Regions from separate parts of the Homo sapiens genome. Here regions 1, 2, 4 and 5 are each reported to be linked to region 3. Evidence: microRNA targets listed by miRTarBase, many of them from high-throughput screens and not tested one by one. Region 3 holds a microRNA gene; each other region holds the end of a gene's coding sequence.
Evidence for each region. The annotated mature microRNA hsa-miR-365b-5p reads AGGGACUUUCAGGGGCAGCUGU and lies in region 3 at 3,168-3,189, shown strand. An mRNA with a match to its seed (bases 2 to 7 or 8) in the 3' UTR can be bound and repressed. Matches are read on the target gene's strand: a 7mer-m8 pairs with bases 2 to 8, a 7mer-A1 pairs with bases 2 to 7 and ends in A, and an 8mer does both.

Region 1: the mRNA of MRTO4 is a reported target of hsa-miR-365b-5p. Seed matches in the 3' UTR shown: 7mer-A1 at 3,342-3,348.
Region 2: the mRNA of DARS2 is a reported target of hsa-miR-365b-5p. The part of its 3' UTR that is shown has no 7-base or 8-base seed match.
Region 4: the mRNA of KLHL21 is a reported target of hsa-miR-365b-5p. Seed matches in the 3' UTR shown: 7mer-A1 at 2,425-2,431, 8mer at 2,275-2,282 and 7mer-m8 at 1,996-2,002.
Region 5: miRTarBase lists TMEM117 as a target of hsa-miR-365b-5p. Seed matches in the 3' UTR shown: 8mer at 1,330-1,337.

What each region holds. Positions count from the first base shown.
Region 1 is chr1:19,258,492-19,262,491 of GRCh38, reverse strand. It overlaps MRTO4 (MRT4 homolog, ribosome maturation factor), which reads right to left. Exons shown (of 8, transcript NM_016183.4): 7 at 3,939-4,000; 8 at 2,364-3,811. The coding sequence ends at 3,662. Among named protein-coding and RNA genes, the nearest start is that of MRTO4, 8.7 kb to the right of the region's middle.
Region 2 is chr1:173,857,395-173,861,876 of GRCh38, reverse strand. It overlaps DARS2 (aspartyl-tRNA synthetase 2, mitochondrial), which reads right to left. Exons shown (of 17, transcript NM_018122.5): 17 at 3,331-4,359. The coding sequence ends at 4,172. Among named protein-coding and RNA genes, the nearest start is that of GAS5-AS1, 3.6 kb to the left of the region's middle. RefSeq lists enhancers at 1-246, 247-963 and a silencer at 326-476.
Region 3 is chr17:31,572,272-31,576,763 of GRCh38, forward strand. It overlaps MIR365B (microRNA 365b), which reads left to right and starts at 3,140; the gene lies at 3,140-3,250. It overlaps MIR365BHG (MIR365B and MIR4725 host gene), which reads left to right. Exons shown (of 3, transcript NR_186556.1): 3 at 3,240-3,388. It overlaps MIR4725 (microRNA 4725), which reads left to right and starts at 2,998; the gene lies at 2,998-3,087. RefSeq lists an enhancer at 1,095-1,714.
Region 4 is chr1:6,590,143-6,594,604 of GRCh38, forward strand. KLHL21 (kelch like family member 21) reads right to left here. Exons shown (of 4, transcript NM_014851.4): 4 at 582-3,516. The coding sequence ends at 3,223. Among named protein-coding and RNA genes, the nearest start is that of KLHL21, 10 kb to the right of the region's middle.
Region 5 is chr12:44,388,139-44,392,630 of GRCh38, forward strand. It overlaps TMEM117 (transmembrane protein 117), which reads left to right. Exons shown (of 8, transcript NM_032256.3): 8 at 1-1,620. The coding sequence ends at 534. Among named protein-coding and RNA genes, the nearest start is that of NELL2, 490 kb to the right of the region's middle.

The sequences.
Region 1 (4,000 bases), not on the chromosome of region 3:
CCCTCTAGCCACCCAAGAACACGGATGAGGGGCCCAGAAACATGCATGCATTCTGATGCTCAAAAATGTAAGATGTCTACTTAGAAGCCATTAGCCCCTCAGTGCTTCAGGGACCTGGGTGCAGGCAACCGCCCTGAGATGACCCCTAGTACTGACCCCCGTGCAATACCCTCCCCCAACCCAGCTTCTGGAACAAGCACCACTTCAAGGCCATGGCCCTGGTGGAGCAGGTCCTGCAGATTGTGTATATAGCACCAGTGCCCCTGGCATGGCCTTGACTGTCCTGCGATGGACCACTCGCAAGCTGCAGGTAACCCAGCTGTCTCTAGATGCTCAGCTGCTTCTCTCAAATTCTGTGGGGGTGGGGAGACTGGGGAAGCTGCGAGGGCTATGCAGTCATTTGGTCACTTTGACCAAGAGGAGTTAAGTCCTTTTCTTCCTATGAAGGCTCTCCATGGCCCAGTTCTTTTGGGTGGGGTAAACCTGTTCTTACACAAATTACTTAAGCGGCCAGGTAACCAACACTAGTTATTGCGATGGCCATGTTAAGTATGGTCATCTCAGTTTTACATGAGGCAACTGGCTCAGAGGCAATTTCACTTGTGTAGGGTCCCACAGCTACACATGGTAGGGAACGAACGTGGGTTTGACTGAAACTAATGTTTTTCTTTTTGGGGGGACAAGGTCTTCCTCTTGTCACCCAGGCTGGAGTGCAGTGGCTTGATCATGGTTCACTGCAGCCTTGACCTCCAGGGCTCAGGCAATGCTCCGCTTCAGTCTCCCATGTAGCTGGGACCACAGGCATACACCACCATGTGACTAACTTCTGTATTTTTTGTAGAGACAGGGGTCTCACTACATTGCCTGGGCTGATCTTTTTTTTTTTTTTGAGACAGAGTCTAGCTCTGTCACCCAGGCTGAGTGTAGTGCTGTGATCTCGGCTCACTGCAAGCTCCGCCTCCCAGGTTCAAGCCATTCTCCTGCCTCAGCCTCCCGAGTAGCTGGGACTACAGGCGCCCGTCACCATGCCCAGCTAATTTTTTGTATTTTTAGTAGAGACGGGGTTTCACCGTGTTAGCCAGGATGGTCTCCATCTCCTGACCTCGTAATCCGCCTGCCTCGGCCTCCCAAAGGGCTGGGATTACAGGCATGAGCCACCGTGCCCGGCCTGAGCCTGGGCTGATCTTGAGTCTTTGGGCTCAAGCAATCCGCCCACCTCAGCATTCCAAATTGCTAGGATTACAGGTGCAAGCCACTGCATCTGGTCTGAAACCTACATTTTTAACCATTAGCTTTTCCTGGCTCCTTGGCTGCCCACCCTGGAGACAGCCCAACCCTGTGTGTAGTGGCAGGGTTTCCCTCTCCCTGCTGTCCCTAACCCCCTTCTCCAGCTTGGGTATTATATGGTTATGGCTTCCCTTTAGTGAGCACGTTACGTGCCTGGTCTGCAGGCAAAGTGCTTCACACAATTTCTAATTCAGACAAGCGGCCTGAAGTCTGAAGCTGAAAGGCTGGGTGACTGACCTGGGTTTACCCAGCTGCTGAGCAGCAGATGAGTGGCTCTGAAGTCAGCTGTCTAAAGCTGAGACAGCGTGGAGGCAGGGCTTTAAAGCCCAACGGTCATGGCTGTTTGCAAGCAGTAATGCAAGGCATACGTGAATAACCAGAGCCCAGTTAGCGGCGGGGCCATGGCTGGGAGGGGCATGATTAGTCACTGTGCAGCAGAAATGTGTTGAAGTCTAGCTGTCTCCCTTACAGGGCATGCATAGGGACGTGGTCATCCTGGATGGAGCAATTGGAGAAACTGGCAGCAGCAAAGGGACCCTGGACTCGGCTGTCACAGAGGCCGCCGACCAAGCCTGGCACCTGACCATCCCACTACCTCCTCCAGGTCTGGCTAGACCTGGCTCAGGTGCGGAGGGCACCACCTGCCACCCTTCATTCTCTCCCCCTGGCCAGTTTTGGCCTTAAATGGTTGTAGGCTGCTTTCCCCTCTCAGCCCGGTTTGCAGATCCTCCCCTACACTCGTGCAGTCTTCCCAGTCATCCTCACAAGGCGAGAGGGCCGGGCCTGAGCTCTCCTTCAGCACTTCCTGCTGAGGCTGGTGCTTGACCTGGCCTAGGCCTGGGTGAACATGGTGAATTCCTCTTCTGCCCGAAGCCTGCTTCCTGCTGTCCTTCCCAAGGGCGTGGTGAGAAGTGGGCGGGAGTAGGAAGTCTCCAAAGAACAGAGGCACTGAGAGGGTGTCAGAGGCACAATGCCGTTGTGAAGGTCACCCCACACCGTGGGACCCAGCCTGACCTCCCAACAGCAGGGCTGGAGGTGGCCCTCTTCCATGCATGGCAGAAAAAAGAGGGCCACTGTACACCCTGAAGCTGATTTACTCTCATTCAGAACTGCTTTCATGAAATACAAATAGAACAATGTGGGCTGGATGCGGTGGCTCACACCTATAATCCCAGCACTTTGGGAGGCCAAGGTGGGTAGATCGCTTGAGCTCAGGAGTTTGAGACCAGCCTGGGCAACATGGTGAAACCCCATCTCTCCTTAAAATTTTAAAACAGAAAAATCAAAAACAAACAAAAGCAAATAGAACAAGGTGGACAAAAATCTACCATTAGAGTCACCAAGGATAAAACCTCCCAGGATGCCGTGGACACTTTAGACGCTGGCTCTCAACTCTTGCAGTGATGTCACTCTCAGCCCAAGGCTGTCTTCCTGGCATCCATCAGATCCGCAGCCCTGGTTTGGAAGTGTGTGGAGGGCTAGGAAGGATACCTAATTTTCCTCAGCAAATCCCTCTGCCAAGGGGTACCCAGGACTGAAGAGAAACCCCAGCTCTGGTGTGGAGCTGTGCTGTCATGGCAGTGCCAAGGCAGCCAGTGGAAGTTGGCTGACAAGGCAAACTGAGGCAATCCACGCAGAATTCAATGGCCACCCAGGCTGGAGTGCAGTGGCATGATCATGGCTCACTGAGCCTCCAACTCTCAGGCTTAAGCAATTCTCCCACCTCAGCCTCCCAAGCAGTGGGGACCACAGGCAAGTGGCACCACGACTAATTTTTTTTTATTTTTTGTAGAGACGGGATCTTGCTGAATTGCCCAGGCTGGTTTCAAACTTCTGGGCTCACCAAAGGCCTCTTTTCTAAGAAAGAGCCCTCTCCCTCCTCTCCCTCTTGCTGTCTCCAGGAGAGACATCCTGCAAGGTTGTATTCTTTTTTTTTTTTTGGGACAGAGTTTTACTCTGTTGCCCAGGCTGGAGAGCAGTGGTCCAATCTCAACTCACGGCAACCTCCACCTCCCGGGTTCAAGTGATTCTCCTGCCTCAGCCTCCTGAGTAGCTGGGACTACAGGCACATGCCACTATGCCCAACTAGTTTTTTTTTCTATTTTTAGTAGAGACGGGGTTTCACCGTGTTAGCCAGGATGGTCTTAATCTCCCGACCTTATGATCTGCCCACCTCGGCTTCCCAAAGTGCTGGGATTCCAGGCGTGAGCCACCGCGCCCGGCCCACAGTTTTATTCTTTACAGGAGGTCAGTGCCCATCATGTTCCCTGTCTACAGACAAATAAAAAGCTGCTCTCTCCAGAGGGGCGGCAGCAGTCCTGATGGTCCAGTGAGACCCAGAAGCTTCCAGGAGACCTTCAGTCCCGAGTCCCTTTCAGTCATCATCTTCTGAGTCTGACTCTTCTGTGGACTCAGATGCGCTCTCTGGCAAGTCGTCTCCCATCTGCTGGAACCTTCCCGACTGTGAATCCCACATGTATTTGATGGTCACCTTGAATTCAGCCATCTCATACCCAAAAAGCTTCTGCAAGAGACAAAGGGAACAAAGAATCAGGAGGAATGAAGGTATTCAAAGTGCAGGGGGGCATTTTCAGCAGGCAGAGGAAAGCCAGCAACCCCGCCCGCAACAGCCCGCAAGGCGCCAGACTCACCAGGACGCGAGCCTGCTCTGGGGTCAGCACATCGCCCTCCTTGCACACCTCGTAGTCAGACA
Region 2 (4,482 bases), not on the chromosome of region 3:
GAGGTTGCAGTGAACCAAGATCGTGCCACCTCACTCCAGCCTGGGCCTCCTAGGCTCAAGTGATTGTTGTGCCTCAACTACCTGAGTAGCTGGGATGACAGGTGTGTGCCACCACTCCCAGCTAATTTTTTTTTCTGTATTTTTAGTAGAGATGGAGTTTCACCATGTCAGCCAGGCTAGTCTTGAACTCCTGGCCTCAAGTGATCCAACTGCCCTGCCCTCCCAAAGTGCTGGGATTACAGGTGTGAGCCACTGCATCCAGCCAAGTTCTATTCTTTTTTTTTTTTTTTTTGAGACGGAGTTTCGCTCGTGTTGCCCAGGCTGGAATGTAGCGGCGCAATCTTGGCTCACTGCAACCTCCACCTCCCAGGTTCAAGCGATTCTCCTGCCTCAGCCTTCCAAGTAGCTGGGATTACAGGCGTGGGCCACCATGCCTGGCTATTTTTGTATTTTTAGTAGAGAGGGGGTTTCACCACGTTGGCCAGGCTGGTCTCGAACTCCTGACCTCGTGATCTGCCCACCTAGCCTCCCAAAGTGCTGGGATTACAGGCGTGAGCCACCGCATCCAGCTTCTTGTTCTCTCTTTTATATATAAGTGCCATTTGCTGAATCAGAAAACTTTTTGACAAGCATATTAAAAGATTTCAGTTGTATGTAGTAGCTCATGCCTGTAATCCCAACACTTTGGGAAACCAAGGTGGGGGGATTGCTTGAGTCCAGGAGTTCAAGACCGGCCTGGGCAACATAGTGAGACCCTGTGTCTACAATTAAAAAAAAAAAGAAAAAAAAAGTGAGCCGGGCATGATGGTGCATGCCTGTAGTCCCAACCACTCATGAGACTGAGGTGGGACGATCGCTTGAGCCCAGGAGGTTGAGGATGCAGTGAGCTGTGTCACACCACTGGATTCCAGCCTGGGTGACAGGGTGAGATGTTGTCTCAAATAAAATATTAAAAATTGGATCACCTTATTCAGCATTCTGTTGTTTAGCAGTTTTGGAATTTTAGTTGTTAGTAAATCTTGACCTTGAGTACACGTTATTTTGATATTCTGTGTGACAAAATGGGAAGTATGCATGAAGCACATCTGCCATAAAGTATGGATGTCTAGATTTTTTTTTCCCTAGAAAAAGTAGTTACAATTGTTTGAGATACAAGCTGAACTAGCTGCTTGTTTTCACAGAACATTTTTAGTTTGAAAAAACCTGACAAATTGATTATTCATATTTTAGGGGTAATTTTGGCAGAGATTTGCTCAAAAAAGAACAAGTCAGCTTGGAAAAAACTGATGGCATTTGTTGCCAATGATAAAACTCAAGCTTCCAAATGAAACCTAAAATTTTGGAAGGCTTGTATACACTTCTGTGCCCTTATAGCTTCCTCAGACTTAGACTTTTGTAATGGGATTGGTGGTAATATTAATTAATGGTATTTTGTTTTAGATATTGTATATCAAAATGTGTCAACATTTGGAAGATTTGCATAACTCAGTGAACCAATATTTTCCAAATGATCAATCACTGGACTGGTGTTACAAATATCACACATAGGTAAAAGTTCTATTTAAATACAAGGTACACCAATGGACTTTAGAAAAGCTCATCAATACGATTTCAGAATCCACATTGCAACTAGCCTTTAAGGAACTCTACTACTTGTCATATTTTGGTGTGGTATCAAAGAGAGTATCCATAATTATCAGACAAAGCTATTAAAATACTCCTCCCTTTTCCAACTTTATATATGAGTGGGGTCAGATTTTCTTCACAGACTTCAACCAAAACAGCATATAACAACAGATAGGATACAGAAGCAGATATCAGAATCTAGTGTCTTCTATTAAGCCAGAAATAAAAAATATTTGCAGAAATATAAAACAATGTTACTCTTCTATTTTTTTTTTGAAAATAATTATTTTTAAAATAAAAACATGGCTGAGTGTGGTGGCTCACGCCTTTGTAATCCCAGAACTTTGGGAGGCTGAGGCAGGCGGATCACCTGAGGCCAGGAGCTTGAGACCAGCCTGGTCAACATGGCAAAACCTCGTCTCTACTAAAAATACAAAAATTAACCAGGTGTGGTGGAGGGCACCTGTGGTCCCAACTACTCAGGAGGCTGAGGCAGGAAAACTGCCTGAACCCGGGAGGTGGAGGATGAAGTGAGCCAAGATCGCACCATTGCACTCCAGCCTGGGCAACAGAGTGAGACTCTGTCTCAAAATAAAATAAAATAAAAACATGCTATTTGTGTTAACATGTAATGGGTTATTTTAAAATGAATTTAACATTTTAAACTAAATCATTAAATCAATTATTAATTAATTAAATAGGAGGCTGAGGCAGGAGAATCACTTGAACCCAGGAGGTGGAGGTTGCAGTGAGCCAAGATGGTGCCACTGCACTCTAACCTGGGCAAAAGAGCGAGACTCTGTCTCAAAAAAAAAAAAGGTATAAATCAAAAGAATTTCAAGGCAGAAGTGAAGACTGAGTAGAAGAAAACAATTTCAAAATCACTGATCAAGACCTTGTTCTCATTTTGTCTTTTTTTGAAATGGAGTCTTGTTCTGTTGCCAGGCTGGAGTGCAGTGGTGTAACCTCGGCTCACTGCAATCTCCACCTCCTGGGTTCAAGTGATTCTCCTGCCTCAGCCTCCTGAGTAGCTGGGACTACAGGTATGTGCCACCACACCCAGCTAATTTTTGTATTTTTAGTAGAGATGGGGTTTCACCATGTTGGCCAGGATGGTCTCAGTCTCTTGACCTTGTGATCTGTCTGCCTCAGCCTCCCAAAGTGCTGGGATTATAGGCGTGAGCCACTGTACCCGGCCTCATTTTATAATTATTAGTTTATTAAAACTTTTATGTGTATGATTAGAACTTAAAATCACAATGAGTTTTGGTGTTCACTTTTTCGCACATTTGAGGTTAATCTAAGGTTGATTAGAATTTTCAATTACTTATAATTGAGAGAAAATAGTGTTCAGTGATTAATAATATCTTTGTTGTCTTTTTTTTTTTGAGATGGAGTCTTGCTCTGTCACCCAGGCTGGAGTGTAATGGCACCATCTTGGCTCACTGCAACCTCCATCTCCCAGGTTCAAGCAAACCTCATGCCTCAGCCTCCCGAGTGGCTGCGATTACAGGCATGCGCCACCATGCCTGGCTAATTTTTGTGTTTTTAGTAGAGACGGTTTCACTATGTTGGCCAGGCTGGTGTTGAACTCCTGACCTCAAGTGATCCACCCACCTCAATCTCCCAAAGTGCTGGGATTACAGGTGTGAGCCACCACTCCCGGCCAATAATATCTTTAAAACTAAAAAAAAAAACAGAAAATTGATAAGTAAAATGACTTTTACTATTGATATCAGTTTTGTTTAATCTGAAACTATAAAATAGAGATATATCTACCTATTTATGGATGGATAATACCATCATCTCATATTTGTGGAATGCTTTATAGTTTTTCAAAGTACTTTTATTCACTTTATCTTCCATATATGTTATCTCCTCTGATTCCAGCAATAACAGCCCGGTGAGGTAGCCAGGGCAAGTATGTATTTTACACATTAGCAGGAAGGGAGGCTAAGCGAGGTTTATGTAACTTACTCAGGCTGAAACACTGAAGAAAAATTTGTGACTCTCATTTCAGTGATGTTTTCTGCATTATTAAAAAATATTATGCTACTCCTCACTATATTATGTTGATGGTTGAAATGTCATTATAAAGCTTAATTTATATGATTCTCTTGATGAGGATGATGAAGCAAATGCTCCATCAACTCACTAGTTTACAGGGGCAAGCATTTTCCTACATTTCACACATAATTTGATTACCTCTGTCCTAAGTGAATAATCTACTATCTGGGTATGAGAAACATGATTTGAAAACACTAAACCACTATATTATTTCAACAAAGAACCATCTTTCACACCTAAGTAAAAAGGAACTTCAAAAAAAGTCCTAACCAAAAAAAATCCAAATGATGCATGAAATCAAGTCAAAATTGGGTATCTTTTATCTGTTTCTTCGTTGTGGTGAAGAATGTTGCCTGGATTCCTTCCATCTAAAGACTTGATTGTTAGACCTGTGGCAGAACTCTAGATCTGACTTTAGCCTTGGGGAAGCAAAGAGGACAAAACCTAAAAGCTCAACTTTCTGCATGGTATGCATGATTCAATGAGCTCTTTCTGCTTTGGAGTCTGTTGGCTTGGAGACTCGGATATGATAGGGCTTCAGTTCCTCAGGAGGGACAGAATCTGGGGTATTGCTCATGAGGTCATGTCCCCGGAAGGACTTTGGGAAGGCTATGACATCTCTGATGCTTGGAGATCCAGTGACAAGGCATATCAGTCTGTCTAACCCTGTGAGTAAAATACAAAGATAACAGATGAGAAATGTAATCTAATGTTGGAAATAACTTAGTTTTTCTATAAAAGTTGTAGAAAACTTTTAAATAAGAATCTTTAACAAACTGTAGCCAACCA
Region 3 (4,492 bases):
AACTTTCATTATCCAGAGTTTTGTTTGAGTTGAGAATTTTGAATAAAGGGTGGTGGGTCTGCATCAACCACAGTTACAATATGCAAGAGCTGGGTCGTGACTTCATCCCTTTGGTCTTGGTGGGACATCACCCTGACCGGTCCCATTGCCACCTGGCACATGATGCACCTCAGTCGTCAGCGTGTGCCCAGCCCAGGGCCATGCAGAGTGAGCACTCAGGGAAGGCGCATGGAACTGGACTGGGTGGCTGGTGTGTTTGGTGATAGGTTAGCTCTGCTGTCAAAGCCAAGCCCAGGTGGGTCACTGTCACATACCCAGCACGGTGTGAGGAGCTCCTCCAGCCACTCTCAGGGGCAGCTCTCCTGACCCTGCCTCCTTGATTTTGGACCAGGCGCTTTTGTTTCTGGGCCAAGCACCTGCCTGTAGCAATGGGTGTGGGGACTTGGGTTTTGCTTTGCTAGTGGAGAATATGGCTGGGATCTGGGTTAGGGCAGAAAGCTCAGGTAGATGACAGGTGCCAGAGCAGTGGTTCAAACTTGGGAGAATCACAGCAGGAGCCTATTAACAATGCAGATTCCAGGGCCCCTTGATAGACCTGGGAAGGGGGGTGCAATCAGCATTGTTAATAAGTTTGTGTGATTGTGAGGCAGGTGGCCCCAGGATTGTGCTCTGGTTGGGTGGACCAATAGGTAAAGCACAGTGTGATGAGCTTTGGGATGATGGAATGGGGAGAAGGAAGGGGCTGTAACCCAGGGAGAGTCTGGGGTCAAGGAAGGTCACCCAGAAGAGGTGAGCTGAGTCTTGAAGAACAAAGCAGGAATGGTAATAATAGCTAATCTTGATTGAACGCTTTGTGCCAGGCACAGTTCTAAGCCTTTTCCATGAATGAACCCATTCAGTCCTCCAGACAACCCCTGAAATAGGTAGTAACCCCAGACTCACACAGGAACAGACAAAAGCACTCGGGGTTAAGTTGCTGGCCCGAGGCTAGTGAGTGGTGAGCTAGGTCTTGCCTGCTTATTGCACGGCACCACGTGGGGTAAGGTGTGCCAGGCAGCGGGAGCAGCTCAGCACAGTGATGCAGGTGTGCTGTTCAGTGGTTCAGATGATGCAGAACCTAGTGTGGGGGGACTGCTTCAGTTCTGCTTTGTTGGTGGAGAATATGTCTGTGATCTTGGTTAGGACAGAAAGCTCCGGGTGGATGACAGGTGCCAGAATGTCAGTTTGAGAGGGCTGAGGCTGGAGCTGGCAATCGGGATAGCAGGCACACTTCCTCACAGTCTGAACTGGAAGGAGCGTGGAGTGTTGGGGAGAAGATGCAGTGTCAGTGCCCAGGGTGCAGCGAGGCACGGGCTGGCACCCTGACCCAGCCCCCTTCCCAGAGGGGAAGAATTCGCTATGGCCCAGCCCCTGCCCTTGGGGTCTGAGGGGATCCACTTTTGTTAGGAGCCTGCTACACACTTTGCTTTCTTTCGATCCTTACATTGCCCTTCCAGGTGGGCTTATTATTCCTATTACAGATAAGAGAGCTGAGGCTGGGAAGCCGAGTAATTTACACAGGGTCAGGTCATACAGCAAGTTAGCAGGTAGTGGTGCCAGCAGCTGGCTGTCTTTTGTGGGGATGTGTTTTCACCACAGCGGTGGCAACCTGTGTCCTGACAGGCCAGGTTCCTGCATGGACAGTGGGGCCCCCAAAGAGCAGGTGCAGTGCCAGGCTGGACAGATTCCAGCTGTGCCGGGGCCTTGGGCAAAGTGGCCTGGCCTCAGGAGACACGTTTCCTGTTGCTGGGTGACATTCCACAGGTGGGAGGCACATGCAGGACCTCATTCCCTAGGGGCCTTCCTGGTCTGGGCCCTGATGCCCTGACGCTGGGGTTGACCCTCTACTGCCCTGGAGGCTCACCTGGGCCTCGGGACAGAAGGGATTGTCCCATTAAGGAGAATCCTCTACGAGTCTCTGATTCTGGAAGCTCTTGTTTTTTATCCTCCCATACAAAAAACAAATTGGCCACCAGTCTCTTCCCTTCTTTTTGGCCACTGTCTCACCATCTCCTTCACCCAACCTTGGTTTCTTTCAGCCTGTGCTTCCCAGCAGAGCCTGTGGGCTTGTTGATTTGAACCCAGAAACCACCTAGGACATTCCAGAGGTCTTCACACTTGTCTTTGTTGCCCATTGTAGGCCGTTTTCATAGAAGGGTATTGGGAGGACCTGCCTTCCCACTCAGGCCAATGTGAAGCTGTTGCTCTTTTGCTAAGGGCAGGGTGGGATATGGCCGAGAATTGGTGGGCGGGCCTGAGATCCATTCAGCAGCACCCCAGGGCGTGCTGTTTCTCACAGGTTGCAGCCTCTTCCAGCCCCTTTGCTTTCTGTGACAGAGCTGAAAGTCTCATTTCCTCTTTGGCTTTCCCTTTGAAATGGGAGAGAGGGTGGTGGGAGCTTAGCTCCTTCCAGGCCCATTTTACAGGCAGAGTAACCAAGGCCGCGACTGCTGGAGAGAAGCGGAACCGGAGTTCCCGTGCCCATTCCTGTTGGAATCTCCTGTCTGTGTGCCGTTCTTTAAGATGGGCTGGAGAGAGTCGGGGCAGCTCTTCTCCCGGGTTTTCAGGCCTGGGTTGCTCTTCTGGGCACTTCCTGGTGTTTTCTTCTCTTTGCCTGAATCAGGCCTGGCCTCAGGCCTGGTTACAAGAAGGTTGGAGGCTGGCTGTCTTGTGTTCATGTGTCACGCCAGGCCTGAGACCATCATTGTCTCTCTGAGATGGTCCACGCCCCTCCTGTGAACACAGGGGCTACAGACTATAGTATAGTTCTTGCCACGTTCCCGAGTTTTGGGGGCTGCTCTCCACATTGGGATTCCACCAGGATGCTGGTCTGCAGTTTCCTGCAGGCAGAAGGCGCTGGGTTCTGAGTTGGCTTTAGGTGGAACCCAGGTCATTCCTGGGTATGCCTTGGGAGGGCGGCGAGGCTGGCCGCAGCTGGGCCCGGCATCGGAGAAAATTGTGTCTCTCTGGAGACCCTGCAGCCTTCCCACCCACCAGGGAGCTTTCCATGGGCTGTGGGGAAGGCGTCAGTGTCGGGTGAGGGAACACCAGCTTCACCTCGGCTCATCTGGGCGTGGCAGACGACTGCTTCCTCACCTGGAGAGTGTTCAAGGACAGCAAGAAAAATGAGGGACTTTCAGGGGCAGCTGTGTTTTCTGACTCAGTCATAATGCCCCTAAAAATCCTTATTGTTCTTGCAGTGTGCATCGGGCAGCGGCCAGCAACCTGCCTCTCACCCACCTGGCCCTTCTGGGAGGACCGGGACTTCCTGGGGTCAGATTGGAATGTACGTCCAAAATAAGAGTGAATGGGGATTTGCTGATTATTAAAACAATTTTGTTTGCGTGCATTTTTAGCATCTTCTCTTCTGGTGGAGGATTGGAGTGGCTGAGGGTCGGGAGGGCTGGACATCAAGATATTCCTGTGCAGGTTGGAGCCCAGGAGGGTGCAGGAACTCCCTGGTTTGTGTGCAGTGAAGGCCTGGAAGAGCCTAGCTGCACGTGCAGTGCCCAAGGAAGGTCATCTTCCGGGTCAGTGATGTTAGAGGCAACAGAGTTGGGCTGGACAAGATGCCCCCCAACCTTTCCTGAGAAGTTGAGGCAGGAGTAGAGGAGGCATCTATCTGCGCAGGAACTTGCATTGTATTTTAAAATAGAAGGCAGCCTGGCCAACATGGCAGAACCCCATCTCTGCTAAAAATACAAAAGTTAGCCGGGTGTGGTGGTGTGTGCCTGTAGTCCCAGCTACTCGGGAGGCTGAGGCATGAGAATTGCTTGAGCCCAGGAGTTGCAGGTTGCAGTGAGCCAAGATTGCACCACTGCACTCCAGCCTGGGCAACACAGTGAGACCTTGTCTCAAAAAATAAATAAAATAAAATAGAAGGAGCCTCAGAATCCACTGTCTGTCTGAGACCCAGTGAACTAGCCATTTTGAAAATAGAACAGTGAATTGAGGGTCTTTCCCCCTCTACTGTGACCCTGGAGCTTGCTTTTCCTTGACTGAAAGTCCTCCATCCTTATTTCACTTCATGGATCTCCTCCATTCTCAGCAGGTCTCCCTACCCCTGCCCTATCCAGCCCCACCCTGCAGATACAGTCATGCACTGCCTAACGATGTTTTGGTCAACGAGGGACCGCATGTAGGACAGTGGTCTCATAAGATTATAACACTGTTTTTACTGTGCCTTTTCTGGTTAGGTACACAAACGCTTGCCATTGTGTTCTAATTGTCTACAGCATTCAGGATAGGAACGTGCTGTACAGATGTGTAGCCTAGGAGCAATGGGCTCCCCCACCTAGCCTAGGTGTGCAGCAGGCTATTCACCATCTAGGTTTATGTAAGCACACTCTGTGAGGTTGGCACAATAACAAAATCACCTAACAATGCCTTTCTCAGGATGGATCCCCGTTGTTAAGTGACACATGACTCTATTTTGACCAGCCAAGGCTTTTGG
Region 4 (4,462 bases), not on the chromosome of region 3:
GACTCTGCAGATAGGAAAAACATCTTGAGCCAGACGGCTTGTGTGGATTCACAGCCTGGTTTGGGACTGTATTTGAAGGGCTCCACCTCCCCAGGTCCAAGGGCCATCTCATCGCAGATGGGAGTCTCATCACCACCTGTATGTACCGCAATCTCAAGAAGGGCTGTGGGAGCCGGGCCCGGGCAGAGGACCAACAGGCAAAGACCAGCTTTGGAGCAGGCAGGTTTCCTGGGCATCATCTGTTCCACAGCATTTACTTCTCAGGCCTCTCTCTTTAAATGGAGACAAGGTCTTCCCGTATTGCTCAGGGTGGTCTTGAACCCCTGGGCTCAAGTGATCCTCCCTCTTCAGCCTCCCAAAGCACTGGGATTGCAGGTGTGAGCCACCACACCCAGCCTCTGGGGCATGTCTTTTCCAACGCTTCATCACTTGCTACAATCTGAGATGAGAAAGGGCCTGGAAGGCTGTTTAAGACCCTCAGTGTGAACCCTGGGCTCCATGCTGCCTGTTCCCCTGACATCTGTCCTCAGCCCAAGAGTCCCAGAAGACAGTAGCAGGAGGACAAAGGCAATGACTCCAAATGGATAGGAAATACTTTTATTGCAAAAAGTACTGAAGGTACCCTAAAACCTTAAGCAGGATTCTGGACATGGAAGCCTACAGAATAGACAAAAATAAATATGTCAACCTGCCCGACCCTCTGGGGTGAACTGGATGTGGACACTGGAGGGAGGGCGTCCTTTATTACATACGCGTCTCTGAAGTCATATAAATATAGAATACCTTATAGTAGATCAGCATTAAATACCAGTCACTGTGTTTATATAACTTAATTTGTGCTGTAGACAAAGTTCTGTACATGTAACATGTGGCCATGCCCAGGCATCCCAGCATCTATCCTGAAGTCAGTGTAAAGACATCCTTAAGTGGTGGAGACATGACAGCCCAGAACCCACAGCAGAGGGAAACTGGGGAGAGGAGGGGGCCTGACCCTGGATCCCCCAGCTGGTGTCCACAGGCTAGAGGGACCCATTGCTGCAGAGGCTGGTGCCTGGTTTTCCCCATACTTGGTCTTCTAAACCCAAAGACAGGGTCCTGATGGTGGAGACCTGGGTAGGTCCGGAGGACAGACACAGGAGAGGGCACAATCCCAAGCGCAGCTCTCCTGCACTGGCTCGCACCACAGCCCTCATCTGAGTGGCCGACACAAGCCTGGAGTACGGCAGCTGCCAACCACAGCAAAGCCGCAAAAAAGACTGAGAAAACAGGAACCCAGAGTTCCACAGGGGCAAGGCCTCGCAGACCAGCCAAGCCCGAGATGCCCTGTGCTGGCAGTCATCACAGTCTGGACAGCATGTCCTTCCGTGGGTGCCCAGCTCAGTGCCTGGAACGGTCAGGGATTGAGGGCGTAGCCAACCTTGTATGGCCAAACCCAGCCCTTACGCCCCTGCTGACAAGGGAGACAAGCTGCCCCGCTGAACTCCAACAACCTCTGGGTGGGCTCAGCAGCCCCTAGGAAGTTAAGCGAGAGCTACAGGGCAGGGGGGCTCCCTGAGGGAGTTTGCACAGACCAGGAGGGGCCAAGGGGTAGCCCCAAGGGAGCAGAGGAAGGAGAAGGGCAGGAAAAGGTCCAGGGCACAGGGCAAGCAACAGTGCCAGAGGGTGCCTGGTCACAGGAAGCCCAGCTGCATGTTCCATGCTGCCCACAGGACTCCCAGCCAGGCCCCAGCAGGCCTGGACAGTGCTGGGCCCCCATCCTCGGCCTTCCCAGCACAGCAGGTGCTGGAAGATGACCATGACCCAAGCGAGAAGAGCCGCCATGAACTGTGGTCATACCAGCCAGGGCGTTCTAGGACAAGACTTCCTAACCCGACAGCAATGACATCCACAGTGTATGGACTGGGCTCTTGAGGAGCACGAGGGAGAGGCCAGGCAGCCCTGTCAGGGGTCCTGGGACATATTAAGGCAACCAGCCACGCCATCTGGCCAGCACAAGGGACTTAAGTGCAATCTGCTAAGTGACAGTGCTAAGACTGTCTTCCTGCTGAGAACATCTCTACGAGTTAGTTCACTAGAAAAGGCAATAAACATTTGCTTTAACCTTCTTTAACCAGGAAAATGCAGTCTAAATGCCCTCTTCTCTAAAAAGGAGGCAAGGACAAAAACTCAAGCCAAGGCTACTTTGGGTACTTTGAGGGGAAACTGACCATTTCCAAGAGAAACCCAGGGGCTGCCAAGCTGCGGCATTCACCCTCCTGCAGAAAGCTTTGGCAATGGGACTTCTTAGACTGGACAAATCAAACAAAGCTGACCCTGTAGAGCTCCTTCTTCTTCCCACTTCTTCTAAGGTCAAACTGCAAGCATTTTCAACTTTGGAACCAACCACCAAAGCCACCTCCTGCCCAGGACTTCCTTTAGAAGCAGTGGGACTCCTCACGCGCAGGCCCAGCAAGGGCTTGGGCACCCGCAGCTGTCTGCTTGGCTGGGTGTCAATGATCACCTCCCAGGGCCTCCCGGGAAGGAGAGGGTGAGAGGTGAGGACGCAAGAGCCAGTCAGGGGGTAGGAGCAGGGGGCTATGGCTGAGGAGGCCCAGCATCTGATAGGACCACATCCTCTTCACCCTCCAAGCCCACACCCCTGCTCATGTCCCACTGTTCTGGGTGCAGCCTCTGGAGGGCAGCCCTCTGAGGTGTTTTGATGTAAGCCCCTGGCAGGGGCCAGGAGCTAGGGAGGCAGGCTCCCCACACCTCTGGACATGGAATTTGGGACCCCACTTCAGCCCGTCTGCCTGGTCCGCTGCTCCAGGTTCAGGCCATCCTCAGCCTCATGGGAGGACCCCTTCTCCCTTCACGCGTCCCTCCCAAGTCATCGTCCTCTCCCAAGGTGGGAACAAGTAGGTGCAGATGACAACGGCAGGAGGGGTGTGCGCCGCGTGGGTGAGCTGTGATCCGCGGGGTGGGGGTGACCTCCAAGACCCAGAAACATGTGCTGGCAGGAAAGTGGCTCTTCCTCAACTGCAGGGAGGGCGTTCCCGACGGCCTCTGATTCAGGCTCTCAAGGTACAGAAACCTTCCAGGTAATGGATCCTGGGCTGGCTTCGCCACCCAAGAGCCTGTGCTCCTCCTGTGAGCCCAACGTGTCCTTGTGCACAAAGGAGTGGGGCACTGCCCCGCAGAGGTGCCAGTTACCTGCACCGAGGCCCGTGCCGGGCCAGACTGGGGCTAGTGCAGCTCATCGGGGTCCCGCGGCGGCCGGGGTCGGCCTGGGTCCATGTCATCGCTGCCACTGTCCAACTCGAAGCCACGCCCACCCGAGAAGGTCTGGGGCATGAACTGGCGGAAGATGCTGACACTGCCATGCCAGAAGGTGGGTTCTGGGAGCCGCCCCACCACGCTCCACGCGCGAGTCTCTGGGTCATAGGCCTCTACCACGTCCGAGAGTTCAAATGTATTGTCGTATCCCCCAGAGACGTACAGCTTCCCCCCAAGGACGGCCAGGCTGCCCCCCACATGTACCTGTGGGCCAAAGGGATGAGTGAGTGGAGGTCAGAGGAGAGGGTAGGGCAGGGCCCCACCTGGGGAACCACTGGAGACAAGGCATGCCCTGTCAGTACCCCAGAGGGGTGGCCTTGGCTCTCCCAGAAAGCAGCAGAGAGGCCAACCCCTTTCCAACACCCTGCCTAGGAGAACGGGCCTCCCCGGAGGCAGCTGGGCCTTCCCTATGGTGATGAGGGTGCCCGCTGCAGCGCCAGGCCTCCCCGTGTGCAGGTCGTGCCGAGCAGCGCTTCCTACGTTCTCTCTCAGAATCTCTGCAGTGGCCCTCTGGGCTGAGCAGTGCTGTTCTCCCCATGTTACAGATGGGAAAACTGAGGCTTGCATGGCTGACAGTGGCAGAGCTGGGCTCTGAACCGCGAGGCTGGATGATTCCTTCCATCTTTCCCAAATTCGCTATGACTATGTGCAGCTTACTGCGGGGAAAACAGAACGCTGGGTCTCTTAAATGCCAGGACATTAAGCTGTGATGTAAGCTGTGAGGCTGGATGTCACGGAGTGTAGGTTTGGAAATGTTAACAGACACACAGGAAAGAAGGCTGTAGGCAATATGATGTGTACCTCAGACTAACACTGCTCACATGGCCAAATGGCACTGAAGCCTCCCTGTCCCATCACTGTCAGGCTGGGCACCCCTCTTCTCAACAAGCCCAGAGAGAAGGGGTGGACCCTGGTTGTCCTATTCAGAACACACAGCAAGTGCTCAACACAAGTATTCCCACAGTGGGCTGGGCATGGTGGCTCATGCCTGTAATCCCAGCACTTTGGGAGGCTGAGCCAGGCAGATCACAAGGTCAGGAGATCCAGACCATCCTGGCTAACACAGTGAAATCCCGTCTCTACTAAAAATACACAAACAAAATTAGCTGGGCGTGGTGGTGGGTACCTGTAGTCCCAGCTACTCGGGAGG
Region 5 (4,492 bases), not on the chromosome of region 3:
CAGAAGATATATACAGTGAAAGACTCAGAAAGTTTAAAAGATTTGAACAGAACCAAGCTATCCTGGGAATGGAGGTCCAATCACACTAACCCTCGGACTAATAAAACATATGTTGAGGGAGACATGTTCTTACACAGCAGGTTCATAGGAGCCAGTCTTGATGTCAAGTGTCTGGCCTTTGTTCCAAGCCTGATAGCCTTTGTGTGGTTTGGATTCTTTATTTGGTTCTTTGGACGATTTTTGAAAAATGAGCCACGCATGGAGAATCAAGACAAAACTTACACTCGCATGAAAAGAAAATCTCCATCAGAACATAGCAAAGACATGGGAATCACTCGAGAAAACACCCAGGCTTCAGTAGAAGACCCCTTGAATGACCCTTCTTTGGTTTGCATCAGGTCTGACTTCAATGAGATCGTCTACAAGTCTTCCCACCTAACCTCGGAAAACTTGAGCTCACAGTTGAACGAATCTACTAGTGCAACAGAAGCTGATCAAGACCCAACGACTTCTAAAAGTACACCTACGAACTAGACTCGGAGATAGACTTGGAGATAACACAAAAAGCAACCTTGAGTGTAACTTTAAAAATTTAGTCTTTCCTTTTGTATATGTAAGGTTTACGTAGTGTTAGGTAAAAATATGAACAATGCCACAACGGTGCTCAACATGCTTTTTCTAGGATTCATTGTTTTCTATTTGTATTATAATACACGTGCCTACTGTATACTCAACAGTCCTCTAGAGATTGCTTTTCACAATTGCACAAGCTATTACTGACTTTACAGCATAGTGGAAGATTAGCTGATGACCCATGTATCTGATGTTCAACCATAGTGGTGCCTTGAGACATTAAACTGTTTTTAACTGTACCAGAAATGAAGTGTGGAACAGTTACCTAACCTATTTCACATGGGCGTTTTGTATACAACTATTTTGATCTACACTTGATGTCTGAGCAGAAAACAGAAATAGCTAAATGTGACTCAGGAAGTATCTCTTGGTTTCTTATTCAGCAGCAGAGTTGGTGACTTTGACAACTGGACTGCAGAGAAACATGGTGATCACCTTTTAATTTTTATTGGCTGTCTGCCAAATATAAATACAGATGCAAAATTCAGTAATAGGAGATCCATAACCCAACATGGGTCACTACTCGTGAAATGTGACTTTCTCCCACCAGTAATTGAAATGAGGTGATGATACCTAATTATGTTTTCCTAATTAAAGATAAATTGCTACTTGATTAAAAATCCTGCCCTTCACCTTTGGGAACAAAGGTTAAGAGACACAGTTGGGCGAACTCTCAAATTTATTGGCATTTACACAAAGTCCCAGACAACCAAGGAACTGAAGTTTTCATCATATGAGAGCAGCACATCCCACCATTTACAATATTCGTATATCTTTCTGCAAATATGGCTCTGGATAGTGAAAATTGAAAAACATATGCCAACCCTGAGCAAGGGAACTCCTCAAAAAATCATGCAGCGGAACCTTGTCAGGTAGAGAAGCCGTGCATGAAAGAATTTGTTTAATGTCTTGTTTTGCGTATGTGTTTTTTGTTTTTGTTTTTTAAGAACTAAATATTGCACATTAATAAATAAGAATTATACAGCAGTGATTATGTGATGTAGTTTTTTGTTTAATTGTATCTTGGCTTAAGAAAAGTCCATTTACATGGGGTTTTTATAGCTTGATGCCAGGCAAGTTAAGAGAAGGCACACTGCCAACTTGCTTTCAATTTTGTTCCATAAATTGTGGTTACGTTTCTTGAGGGGGTGAGGGAGATCACTTTTAAGGAAAAATTATTTTCCTGTCACACACTGACATAGCTGCATTTTTTCTTTATGATTTTTTAAATCTCTCTTGTTTTGATCTATCTACTTTTAAGCTTGCAGCATACTGAATTTAGCATGCATAATAGAACTATGCATTTATCTGTCACTTGAGAGCCAGCTTTAATAAACATCTTTACTAAGCATTTGGAACCATGCCCCTGCTGTTACTTTTACCTTTAATAGCCATGCATGGTGCTACTTAGAATCATAAACATATCTGACACACACACACACACACACACACACACACACAAATGCAGAGATCAAGCTCACTATAGTAACCCATTGCCCATACTATCTAAAGGAACTTACCATGTATGTCTGATAGGTGGCAACACTAGCTATTACTAAATTTTGGCAGCCTAGAACATTCAACTTTTAGCTCTGGGACATGTAAATAATAACACCTAGTACCACATTTTTATTTATTCTGAAAGTCATTGTCTTATAGAATGACGAAAGAAGTTGATTTAGAAAGTAGACGTTTATTATCAATATGCATGACTTATAAAAATATTATTTGAGAATTTTTACATGGGTATTAATGGAAAATGTTTTAATGAGAAAATCTAATTAGCAGAAGTAAGACAGAAAAAAAATAACAAACTTAGAACAACATGTTTATGTGTTTCTAGGGATTAGCTAGAAAAACTATTAAAAAAATGAAAATATATATTTAAATTTTCATAAATTTAGTAACAAATGGAACAATTTCCAAGGACATTTTAATAGTCAAACAAGACTTCAGCCTTCTAAGGCTTCCAACTGTTGAATTGTATATACTGATAGTGACCTTTTCTTACCTACATATGGATCTACTTTCTTCTTTTGCTGCCTCTTTTGGGTATTGCATTTATACCAAGTAAAGATACTAAAATGAAATAAACTAAAAATTAAATCCATTCACATTCAGTCTTGAATCCTGAGTCATACCAATAGACTGAGACTCTACAGAGATTTTTGAATACCAAAACTTTTAAACTATTAAGGACATTTTAAAAAGAGATGTGTAGCAATCTCAGAAATTGAGGTTAAAAAAAAGGATTTAAAAAATTACTAAGCACAGATTCTAAAGAAAGCTTAACAAATGTGATGTCTTAATTGCAGTGATGCTTAAGTACTATAAACAATTATATTTCTACTGTTCAGTAATTACAGTACTTTCTTCCACATAGTGCAGAATTTGAACTAATTTGACATAATTTTAGTATCCTACATTTATAAAGTACTTCATTAGTAGTTGAAATGGAAAATTAAATAAACACTATGAATTTGTGCCTGATAATATACACTTAGACATAAATCTCATCACCACATGTCTATTTGTATTGTATAATCATAATTAGTTACCCTATTTTCTCCCCATGGTAGCTACTTATGTTACCTTATCTTTTAGCATAGCTGAGATCACCAGCAAATTCTGTTTAAAATGTTAAGAATTATTTCTTCTCCATCTGCCCTAAGAGTCAACCAGGTACAAATTTTTTTTATTTTTGTAGTATCAGATTTCACACAAGTAATGTCCAAAAACACTGCACCACTGGCTGACAGTACAGTGGAAAGAAGTCCAACACAGGCATTCAGATTTGAAGGAGGGAGTCAATACATGGTAGCTCACCACTGGGCTCCATAAGCAATTTTATCACATTATTTGGCTTCCCCATGGGTCACCAACACAGCCCAATATGAAATATGAGAAAGACAATGCTAATAAATCCTAAATGTCTCTATAACTGATAATTCAGGAGGCCAACTGGATTATCTGACATTCAGCTAAGACCTCAGTACCCTGCCATTGTTTCTCATCTGCCTTCACTCTGAACTAACCCTTATTTTAAATTTCAACTCATGCTTAGGCAGCTACAAGTAGGGTATTATGCTTATATTGGTTTTTCCCTCTGAGACTGACTTGGCTCACTACTCTATCTGGCCTGATTTCTTCGAGCTTTGTCCCTCAGAACCCAACTCTGACCTATTAGCCAGCCCGTACCCTTGAGACAGCAAGAGCAACTCAATTAATTCTGCAGCAGATAAACTGGCACTTTCCTCATTTATCCCCATTTAGACGTTTAAACATGTTTGTGTGCATAGAGTTGTAATTAGTGAGTATAAATATAGGTAACAGAGTCAAGCTCAGAAACGTTTGGGTTGCTTCCATTTAGACTGGCCTAGAACTGTCTTATTTGAACAACTAGGGAAGTTTAGATGTAGTATTTATAACTCACAAGTCACTCTTGTTGAAGAAACTAGAAAAAGAGGTGGATATTTATAATGAAAAGAGAAGGTTAGGCAGATGGTGGAGAACAAGTGGAGGTTTCAGCAATGAAATCTTAGAAATAAAAACAGCAGTTTTACTTTAAACAGGCTTTAAAACTGCAGGGAGAGAATAGCCTCTATGAAAGGAACTTTACCATAAAATTCTCATTAGGCTAGTACTCTTATGTGTTGTGTAGAGGACTCAAAAGTTATGTTCAACATAGCTGACTGAGGGTATTACATAAAAGGCTGGTTGGTTGGTTAGTTGTTTTGCTGGTTAGCTGGCTTTTTTTTATTATTATTATACTTTAAGTTTTAGGGTACATGTGCACAATGTGCAGGTTAGTTACATATGTATACATGTGCCATGTTGGTGTGCTGCACCCATTAACTCG